Linked DNA regions of Homo sapiens. The protein of the gene in region 1 purifies or fractionates together with the protein of each later gene. This does not show direct contact. Each region holds a gene or a part of one and is shown in the gene's direction. Other genes may lie near its edges. The genes, in order: HSD17B1, RAB3B and RNASEL.

What was found.
Region 2: the proteins of HSD17B1 (region 1) and RAB3B purify together in Homo sapiens (affinity purification with mass spectrometry; one large-scale study listed by BioGRID and IntAct). This does not show direct contact.
Region 3: the proteins of HSD17B1 (region 1) and RNASEL purify together in Homo sapiens (affinity purification with mass spectrometry; one large-scale study listed by BioGRID and IntAct). This does not show direct contact.

The regions. Positions count from the first base shown.
Region 1 is NC_000017.11:42,551,384-42,555,133, forward strand, and holds the start of HSD17B1 (17-beta-hydroxysteroid dehydrogenase type 1), read left to right. Parts: upstream 1-1,539; 5' UTR 1,540-1,550; coding exon 1,551-1,647; exon of another isoform or gene 1,648-1,740; coding exon 1,741-1,908; exon of another isoform or gene 1,909-2,055; coding exon 2,056-2,235; exon of another isoform or gene 2,236-2,410; coding exon 2,411-2,504; exon of another isoform or gene 2,505-3,018; coding exon of another isoform or gene 3,019-3,021; coding exon 3,022-3,199; exon of another isoform or gene 3,200-3,285; coding exon 3,286-3,555; 3' UTR 3,556-3,750. UniProt on the Homo sapiens protein: Favors the reduction of estrogens and androgens. Converts estrone (E1) to a more potent estrogen, 17beta-estradiol (E2). Also has 20-alpha-HSD activity. Uses preferentially NADH.
Region 2 is NC_000001.11:51,935,131-51,938,780, reverse strand, and holds part of RAB3B (ras-related protein Rab-3B), read left to right. Parts: intron 1-1,368; coding exon 1,369-1,487; intron 1,488-3,650. UniProt on the Homo sapiens protein: The small GTPases Rab are key regulators of intracellular membrane trafficking, from the formation of transport vesicles to their fusion with membranes.
Region 3 is NC_000001.11:182,573,013-182,576,224, reverse strand, and holds the end of RNASEL (2-5A-dependent ribonuclease), read left to right. Parts: intron 1-646; coding exon 647-833; 3' UTR 834-2,591; downstream 2,592-3,212.

The DNA.
Region 1 (3,750 bases):
GAGGTGGAGGTTGCAGTGAGCCAGAATCGTGCCACAGCACTCCAGCCTGGGCAAGAAGCGCGAAACTCCGTCTCAAAATAAAATAATCTTCTAAAAATGACAGGGCCAGGTGGGGTGGCACTTTTTTATAATCCGAGCACTTTGGGAGGCTGAGGTGGGCAGATCGCTTGACATCAGGGGTTTGAGACCAGCCTGGCCAACATGGTGAAACTCCGTCTCTACTAAAAATACTAAAAATTAGCTGGGCGTGGTGGCGGGTGCCTGTAATCCCAGCTACTCGGGAGGCTGATGCAGGAGAATCGCCTGAACCAGGCAGATGCAGGATGCAGTGAGCCAAGATTAAGACACTGCACTCCAACCTAAGCAATACTTTGTCTCAAAAATAAAAAAAAGCCTGGGAAACAAAGTGAGACCCCGTCTCTACAAAAAAGTCAAAAAATTAGCTGGGTATGGTGGCAGTGATGGCACACACCTGTAGTCCCGGCTACTTGGGAAGCTTTTTAATATTTTTTGCAGAGACCGGGTCTCACTCTGTTACCTGGCCTGGTCTTGAACTCCTGGGCTCCAACAATCCCCTTTCCTGGGCCTCCCAAAGTGCTGGGATTACAGGCATGAGCCACCGTGCCCAGCCTCAAAGCATATTTTAAAGGATAGAAATAAACAGCCATATGAAGAGATACAGACAGGGCGGTCTGGAAGGGTCCAGAGCAGGAGCTTCTATCTCCATAGAGTTGGGGTTACGTCACCCTCTGGGCACATTCTGTCAGCCTCCACACGTTCAGCCCTCAGAAGCTCCCGAACCCTGTCCTTTGGGCCTTTTATGGAGAACTCCATTGGCTGTCCATGACTGAAGCATGGACAACTGTGATAATGTGATTGGGCAAAAAGGGTCTGATCTAAGCCCAGCAAGGCCAGTCCAGATTCTTTGGGCCTTTGTGCAGCATTCCTTTCTCCAGGGTATGGGGCAAGGACCCACTCTGGAATGAGGATCCTACAACCCACAATCAGATTAGAGTCCTGCCTTGGGCAGCTGAAAAGAGGACAGGAGAAGGTCAGAGAGACGAAAGGCTGTTTTTTGAGGCCTGAGGCACCCCAACATGACAACGTAAGACTGTAACCATGGTCATGTGAGTTATGAGCTAGGAACCCTGGACGAAACCAGCACATATACAATCATCTCCCACCTCCCAACGCCTTTACTTTCACAGCCTCTGCAGCAAACTGCGGTCACTATAATCGCTCCTGTGGCACAGAGGCATACCCAGGGGAATCTGCCCAGGGGGCCACTCTGTGCCCACGTGGGAACCCACACCTGCTTGTAAAGCCTCCCCTCCCTCTGACCAGCAACCAGGACAGTTTGTTGTTCCAAGCAGTGGGCTCATGTCTGTTTTGGCTCAGAACAGGGTGGGGAGAGCGGGCCAGGGACCCGCAGGAAGGCTTATCCTTGAGATTGCGTGGGAGACACAACAAGGGGTGGGGGCCCGCAGGCGGGGCGGGGCGAAGCAGGTGATATCAAGCCCAGAGCCCCAGCCTCTCCCCACAGTCTCACCATGGCCCGCACCGTGGTGCTCATCACCGGCTGTTCCTCGGGCATCGGCCTGCACTTGGCCGTACGTCTGGCTTCAGATCCATCCCAGAGCTTCAAAGGTATAGATAGGCAGGGACAGGGAGGGAGAGAAGGGAGGAGCCCTTGGAGGCCAGAAGGGAAGTCAGATCTTCCTCCTCTCCCAAAACCTCCAGTGTATGCCACGTTGAGGGACCTGAAAACACAGGGCCGGCTGTGGGAGGCGGCCCGGGCCCTGGCATGCCCTCCGGGATCCCTGGAGACGTTGCAGCTGGACGTAAGGGACTCAAAATCCGTGGCCGCTGCCCGGGAACGCGTGACTGAGGGCCGCGTGGACGTGCTGGGTGAGCCTCCTGGAAGCATATGGGCTCCTAGGAGCCTTCTCCGCCCTGCGTTGAAACCAACATGTTCCCAGGCCCAGGGAGCACGAGGGGACAGGCCGTGCTGAGGGTGATGCTGAGGCGGGCTGGTCGGGCCTCTTGTCTCCGCAGTGTGTAACGCAGGCCTGGGCCTGCTGGGGCCGCTGGAGGCGCTGGGGGAGGACGCCGTGGCCTCTGTGCTGGACGTGAATGTAGTAGGGACTGTGCGGATGCTGCAGGCCTTCCTGCCAGACATGAAGAGGCGCGGTTCGGGACGCGTGTTGGTGACCGGGAGCGTGGGAGGATTGATGGGTGAGTGGTAGGGAGTGGCCTCGGCAGCTCCAGATTCTTTGTGTGCGGAGCTGAGCCTTGAAGGCAGGTTCCGCGGGGGGGGTGGAGTGGGGTGCCGTCAGCTTGGAGGGGCACCGTCTGCCCGGGGATGACCCCCTGGCCGCTGCGCCTCAGGAACCTCGTCTCCCCACCTAAGGGCTGCCTTTCAATGACGTTTATTGCGCCAGCAAGTTCGCGCTCGAAGGCTTATGCGAGAGTCTGGCGGTTCTGCTGCTGCCCTTTGGGGTCCAGTGAGTCAACACCCCCGTTCCCCGAACCCTCTTAACTCTGACCTAGAGACGCCGAGCACCCTGTCCTGCGGGAGCCGCTCTGGGGCGATCTCCCTGGCCCTCTCTGCCCGGCTCACATTAGCTGTGTGCCAGGCACTTGGGCTGGGCGCATGGCACGCATTGTGCCACCTGCTGACCTAGCTGCTGAAGTGTTGGTATTGTTATGGGGAAGCTCCAGCCCAGAGAGGTTAGGTGACTGGCCCAAGGTCACACAGCGGCCAGGGACCCCGCTAGATTCGAATCCTGACACCAGGGCTCCCTTGTAGCCTCAGATGGATTTGGGAGGGCTGCTCCGGCAGGAACCCGCGTTTCAAATGTTCTGGTTATCCCCAGCGCCCTTTCCGCCTCACTTCCCAGCGCAGCGGTGCTGCTCGCGGTCGGGGGCCGGGACGTGGTTGGGGCTGGGACTGGGGTTGGGGCTGGGACTGGGGCCTGGCTGGCGTCCGCCCCCTCCCACTCGTTGCTCTCCGGCCAGCAGCTTGAGCCTGATCGAGTGCGGCCCAGTGCACACCGCCTTCATGGAGAAGGTGTTGGGCAGCCCAGAGGAGGTGCTGGACCGCACGGACATCCACACCTTCCACCGCTTCTACCAATACCTCGCCCACAGCAAGCAAGTCTTTCGCGAGGCGGCGCAGAACCCTGAGGAGGTGGCGGAGGTGAGCGCCGGGCTGGACTCCAGGAGTGGGGGCGGTGCGTCCTCCGGCGCGCAGCGGTGGCCACAGCTCTCCTCCCGCCGCCGCAGGTCTTCCTCACCGCTTTGCGCGCCCCGAAGCCGACCCTGCGCTACTTCACCACCGAGCGCTTCCTGCCCCTGCTGCGGATGCGCCTGGACGACCCCAGCGGCTCCAACTACGTCACCGCCATGCACCGGGAAGTGTTCGGCGACGTTCCGGCAAAGGCCGAGGCTGGGGCCGAGGCTGGGGGCGGGGCCGGGCCTGGGGCAGAGGACGAGGCCGGGCGCGGTGCGGTGGGGGACCCTGAGCTCGGCGATCCTCCGGCCGCCCCGCAGTAAAGGCTTCCTCAGCCGCTGTCTCCCGCGCCCTTCTTTGTCCCCTGGGTCTGTGTGGTCCCTGGGGATGGGGCGGCGGTAGCAGCTGTGGGTGGCTAATTAAGATAGATCGCGTTAGCCAGTTTTACCAGCGCAGCTAGGCGCGATGGCTGTCGCCTGTAATGCCAGCGCTTTGGGAGGCGGAGGCAGGAGGATCGC
Region 2 (3,650 bases), on another chromosome or scaffold:
TCACTTGAGCCCAGGGGGTGGAGATTGCAGTGAGCCAAGATTGCTCCACTGCACTCCAGCCTGGGCCACACAGTGAGACCCTGTCTCAAAAAAAAAAAAAAAATTACATGAAGAAAATCAAAATCTCAGTAATTCTTGTCTCTTATTCAGAGAAAATCTCTATTAACCTTTTGATGTGTTTCTTCTATTTTTTTCTGTGCACATATAGTTATAAAACTAATACATCACACATACAAGTATTGTCTCATATCGTTAAATATTCTTACATACATGAACTTACATAAAAATTCTTACATTTTAACCATTCTCCTATTGTTGAATATATAAGTTGATGATATGTTTTCACTGTCTAGATAAAGTTTTAACAAATGTGTTTTTGTACATACATATTTGTCTGATTTTCTATTTTTATAGGGAAAATTTTTCTAATTTTGTGGGAAAAATTCCCAGAAGGAATATTTCTGGGTCAAAGAGTATGAACATTTTTAATGCTCTTAAGACTTCCAAATTGATTCCCAGAAAGGCTAAACCAAGTTCCACTCCCACAAGCAAGATGTGAATTTGTATATTTCACTGCATGCTTATCAATCATGGGAATTATTATTAAAAATAAGGGGCTGGGCACAGTGGCACAAAACCTTAATCCCAGCTACTCGGAGACTGAGGTGGGAGCATTGCTTCAGCCCAGAAATTCAAACTTGCAGTGAGCTATGATTGTGCCAGGGCTCTCAGCCTGGGCAACAGAGTAAGGCTTTGTCTTAAAAAAAAAAAAAAAAAAAAAAAAGAAACAAAAATAAGGTTAAAACTTTTTATGTAATAATTACCCACTCAACATTTCTTATGTGCTTGTTCATGCCTCTTGTCCACTTTTCCTTTAGGATTTTAATTATTCTTATTAAATTCTATGAGATTTAAAAAATCATTTTAATCTAGTCAGCAAGCACAATACAAGACACATAATAGATGCTCCTTAAATATGCCTTGGGTTGGGCGCGGTGGCTCACTCCTGTAATCCCAGCACTTTGGGAGGCCGAGGCGGGTGGATCACCTGAGGTCAGGAGTTCGAGACCTGCCTGACCAACATGGAGAAACCCTGTCTCTACTAAAAATACAAAATTAGCTGGGCATGGTGGTGCATGCTTGTAATCCCAGCCACTCGGGAAGCTGAGGCAGGAGAATCACTTGAACCTAGGAGGCAGAGGTTGCAGTGAGCTGAGATCGCGCCATGGCACTCCAGCCTGGGCAACAAGAGCAAAACTCCATCTCAAAAAAAAAAAATGTCTTGGGTTATTAGTTAATTGTCCTGGGGACTTTTTAGGAACCAAAGCAGACTTTCTAAGAGATTGTTTCTTTTCTTTTCCTGCCCAGGACACAGCTGGGCAGGAGCGGTACCGGACCATCACAACAGCCTATTACCGTGGGGCCATGGGCTTCATTCTGATGTATGACATCACCAATGAAGAGTCCTTCAATGCTGTCCAAGACTGGTATGAGACCCATATTCATTCATTCATTTAACAAACTGTTCATTAAAACCTAACATGTGCTAGGTCCTGTATTGTGTGCTGGGGAAGCCCAGATGAATCAGACATGGTTACTGGCCTCAGGAGTTTACAGACGAGAGCAGAAGACAGATCCATAAGCAGGAATGAAAATATCATGTGATAGGCCGGGTGCAGTGGCTCACGCCTGTAATCCCAGCACTTTGGGAGGCCGAGGCAGCCAGATCACCCGAGGTCAGGAGTTTGAGACCAGCCTAGCCAACATGGTGAAACCCCGTCTCTACTAAAAATACAAAAATTAGCCAGGCGTGGTGGCACGTGCCTATAATCCCAGCTACTCAGGAGGCTAAGGCAGGAGAATTGCTTGAACCTGGGAGGCGGAGGTTGCAGTGAGCTGAGATCACACCACTGCACTCCAGCCTGGGCAACAGAGTGAGACTCTATCTTAAAAAAAAAAAAAGAAAGAAAAGAAAAGAAAATGTGTGCTAGGTGCAGTGATGAAGCGAGGCATCAGGGCTGTGGGAACCCAGCAGAGGGCTCTCTGACCCAGTTTAGGGAGTCAGAGAAAGTGCCCTGGAGTTGCTGACACATATGCTGCATTTTGTAAGATGAACAGGAGTTAGCCCGAGGGACAAATGAATAAGGATGTTCCAGAAAATGAGTACAGATGTGCAAAGGTGAGAAGGTAGGTGCGAGTGTTGAAGGGCATAGGTCATGAAGGGTTTTGTGTGCTGCTATAAGGAGTTTGGATTCTGTCCCATAGGTGATGACGTATGAATTAGAAACCAACAGGTTCACATTTGTGTTTCAGGAAGATTACTGTAGCTCCAGTGGAGAGTGAATCCACATAGCACTTAAAGTTTATCCCTGGGCTGAGCCAGGTGTCCAGGAGCACATACAGTCCAAGTTCATCAAGGCTCAATATGCAATGGAAATCAGTACAGCACCCCAGAGTTGCAACCTCTGAGCAACTTATAGCTTTCTTCCTGGGGCACGATTCCCAGGAGAAGGGAGCCTGAGGGGAAGGACACATGAGAGGGAGGGCCAGGACCCAGTGTCCCTGCTCAGATGAGGATGGGGGAAGGTGGGACATCTGTGTGGTGGCTGTCCTTCAGAATCGGAGAGGCTGAGCAGACCAGGCACACAGCAGCAGTGCTGGCCAGTGCTGGGCTTGTCTCCTTCTCCCTTTTGCCTAATGGTGACCTTCGAGGACTTCGCTTCTCCCAGGGAGCAGTTGTCATAATTGTGTTGGCTTCACATACACAGCTTGAGCTGAGAGTGACCTTGTGGGCTGCCTGCTGCACTCCCCTGTTCTGACCAGCAGTTCAGGGTGTCATCAGCATGTCTGTCATTCCTGGGGGTCTGTGTTCTCCTTTTCTGCCTCCTGGTTATCCTCTTCTTCCTCCTTTCTGTCCCTTCCTTTTAAATAACTCTTTCTTCCCTCTACCTTGGGTCTTTCTCCTCTCCTTCCTCTGTTCTCTTCCCCTTCCCTTTACTCTCTCCACTCATCATTTTCCTCCCTTCCTCCCCTCTCCCTGCTCCTCCTCTTCTCTCTCATCACATCTCCCCTGAAGTGTCTCCACGCTGCCCATTTCCCTGTTGGCCTTGACCCCCTTCCCTTCCTCCCTCAGTCTCTGTTCATTCTGCCTCAGGAACACGGTGACTTTAACACCTGGTGACGATTCCTCCAAGAATAACCTGAGTTTGTTGCTAACCTGGGAGCTGAGAGGAAATGGGGTGGGAGAAGGGAGGAAGATGAAAGAAAGAGTAGCATGGGAGATAAGGAGAGCTGGCCCCAGTTACCTGCCTTGAGTCTGAAGACTGAGGGTCTATCTCTCCCAAGCCCTGGCCTTTGAGTTTTGTCTGTGGGTAACTTGGTCTCAGTCTCACCCCTACCTGCCATCCAAGCCCCAGTGCCCAGAATGGGGCCTGGTTTCCTGTGGGCCCACAAGAAGTGGTGGTTGAGTGAATTCCATCCTTTGAGGGAATGGCTTCTCACCATAAATGAGAAGGTTGGTGGTAAGATCAACTTTAAGAGCAGGGTCAGTAGTAGGTTCAGGTTGCAGTTAGGGTTGAGTTAGGTTGTCAGTGTCAGGGTAGAGTCAGATTCAAGATCTGCTTCAGGACTGACCATTCACTGGCTCGTTC
Region 3 (3,212 bases), on another chromosome or scaffold:
TGTGAAATGAGAACAATTTAAAAAATCCAATTCTAAGTTTATATCTACGATGGAAAAAAGAAAATTTATTTTGATGAAAGAAAAGTAATTCCTTCCCTCTGTGTGTAAAAGGGCTATCACTGTTGCCTTACAATTAATGAGGGACATGTCCAGCAGGCTTTCATCTTCCTTGTCATTTTTTTGTTGGATAAATGGTAAAACAAATTGAACAGGAGCTAGTGACTCCCTTCTGTGAAGTAACACAGGAGACTGGACAGCTAGATAAAGTGAAGGTAGAGTTATATACGTCTAAAAATAGCCCACATTAGTTAGATCAGCTTTTGCTGACAAAGATGTTAGTTGCAAACTCACAAAAAAGCCTTGCAGTTCAGGGCTCTTCTGGATTTTGGAATTGTAGGTAGAGGATTGTGGCATTGCACTATTTCCATTTTATGAAAGAACAATCTAAAGTTCAGAAAGATTGTGGCCAAAGGTTGCACAATTAGTTGAAGAGTCAGGGGAGGAGTCTTGCTCTGTCAGATTCCAAAGTCCTTATTCATTCTGCAATAGAAATCAAGCGAGCAAAGAGATCTTCAGGGCCATATGCTGTGAAGCGGGGAAGAATAATTTGGGGCAAGCATGCTGAACAATTTGTGTTTTATTTCAGGATGAAATTAAAAATTGGAGACCCTTCCCTGTATTTTCAGAAGACATTTCCAGATCTGGTGATCTATGTCTACACAAAACTACAGAACACAGAATATAGAAAGCATTTCCCCCAAACCCACAGTCCAAACAAGCCTCAGTGTGATGGAGCTGGTGGGGCCAGTGGGTTGGCCAGCCCTGGGTGCTGATGGACTGATTTGCTGGAGTTCAGGGAACTACTTATTAGCTGTAGAGTCCTTGGCAAATCACAACATTCTGGGCCTTTTAACTCACCAGGTTGCTTGTGAGGGATGAGTTGCATAGCTGATATGTCAGTCCCTGGCATCGTGTATTCCATATGTCTATAACAAAAGCAATATATACCCAGACTACACTAGTCCATAAGCTTTACCCACTAACTGGGAGGACATTCTGCTAAGATTCCTTTTGTCAATTGCACCAAAAGAATGAGTGCCTTGACCCCTAATGCTGCATATGTTACAATTCTCTCACTTAATTTTCCCAATGATCTTGCAAAACAGGGATTATCATCCCCATTTAAGAACTGAGGAACCTGAGACTCAGAGAGTGTGAGCTACTGGCCCAAGATTATTCAATTTATACCTAGCACTTTATAAATTTATGTGGTGTTATTGGTACCTCTCATTTGGGCACCTTAAAACTTAACTATCCTTCCAGGGCTCTTCCAGATGAGGCCCAAAACATATATAGGGGTTCCAGGAATCTCATTCATTCATTCAGTATTTATTGAGCATCTAGTATAAGTCTGGGCACTGGATGCATGAATTCCACTCCTTCCAGAACCAACTGCATTGGTTTTCCATGACCTTAAGGCAGTAGTTCTCAACTGGGGGGCAATTTTGCACTGAAGAGAGCATTTGGCAGAGTCTGAAGAAGTTTTTGGTGTCACAGCTTTGTGGGGAGCATGCTATGGCATTTAGTGGGTAAAGACCAGGGATGCTGCCAAACCTGCCTTGCACAGGACAGCCCCTGCAACAAAGAATTATCCAGACAAAAATATCAATGGTGCTGAGGTTGAGAAAACCTGACTTAAGGGGCTGGGATGCTTTTGAACTAGCTTAAGGCCCAGGACTGTGGAGTGTGTGGACCACCCCACAGAGGAGGGACTCAGATTTATTTACTCTTGCTGGATCTGTAGTGATGGAGTTCCTTCTGGTGTCAGCCCCACAGGAGGCTCCCAGGCCTCCCTCACTTCCCATACCCAGTCTAGGAGCTCCTTCTGGCTCCCAAGCACCCAGAGCTTTCCTCCGCCTTTTAGTTTTGGTTCCTCCACTGGAATGTAGGCTCCTCACGGGCGATGGCTGTCTTTTCTTGACTTTGTATCTTCACTGCCAAGCAAAAAGTCTGCCAAGTGGGAATGTTTAATAAATATTCATTGAATAATGAATGAACCATCTTCGTACATGAATAATAATACTGTCTTACGTTTTTCTGGTGCTTTATAATGTATACATTACATCTGAGTATTTTATTTTATTTAATTTTCAAAACAATCCTTTAAGGTCAACATTGTTATCCCTATTTTGCTGATGAGGAAACTAAGGTTAGAAACATTTTGATTTCCTCTAGGACGTATAGCTAGGAAGTGTTACTATCTTGATTTGAACAAATTTTCTGGTGCTAAGTCTGATGTTCTTTCCATGAATCATTGTGGTGGTTGAGATGGAGCTTTGTAATGGGAATAAAACAGTACCTTAGGTTCTTTCTGAAAAGGAGGTATCTAGCAATGGATAAATAGATACCACTGAATGAAATTAAATGTTGATTAGGAACAAATTTAAGGCTTAAAAAATACTTTATGAGCAGCAAGATTGCTTTAACTTTTAAAATGAAGCTTTGGTTCTCTGATTTGTAATGAGCACCTGGACATGTCAATTAAAATGCCCATTTGTGAAGCTTACTCAATAAAACTTTAAATTGTCTTATTTAGTCTGATTTTCTTTAAGTGACATTTCCACTTTAAGGAGTGGGTGATATCTACAATAGAAAATATTCACTAAGTAATTCCTGGATAAGTTTTAAGAAAGGTCATCCTGCTGTCTGAAAATGGGAAAAGGAGTTATTTTTGACTTTCTAGTAATTCTGGAATAATGTGGGCCTAGTATGTAGTGAGAGAAGGGAGGAAATGATCATTTTTCCGTCTGCTTGAATTCTCTGAGAGTTTCTGTTGACATTCTGCAAACATTTCTCATTCAGTTGTCATCGTCACAAACATTTCATTGAGCATGTGGTTCATATCAGGTCCTGTATTAGGCAGGCTGATTCTGTACTCTTGCTCAGGGGTAAAAGCTCTATCCCTGTGTGCTTTACTCAGCAGTTGGTGGCATTTACCTGTCTCTCCAATAAGCCTGGGAGGGCAGAGATCATATCCCATTTCCTCACTTGGTGCCTGGTGTGTTATAAGTGTGTAGTGTATTTAAGTTATAAGATACTCCTTGAATTCACTGGTTGAGAAGAACCTTTAACATTTGATTTTTGGTGGGTCTTTGCTGGAGCTGCAGCCTGGGAGAGAGGTAAGTCTTGGAGCCGACCCCTGGGCAGCTCTT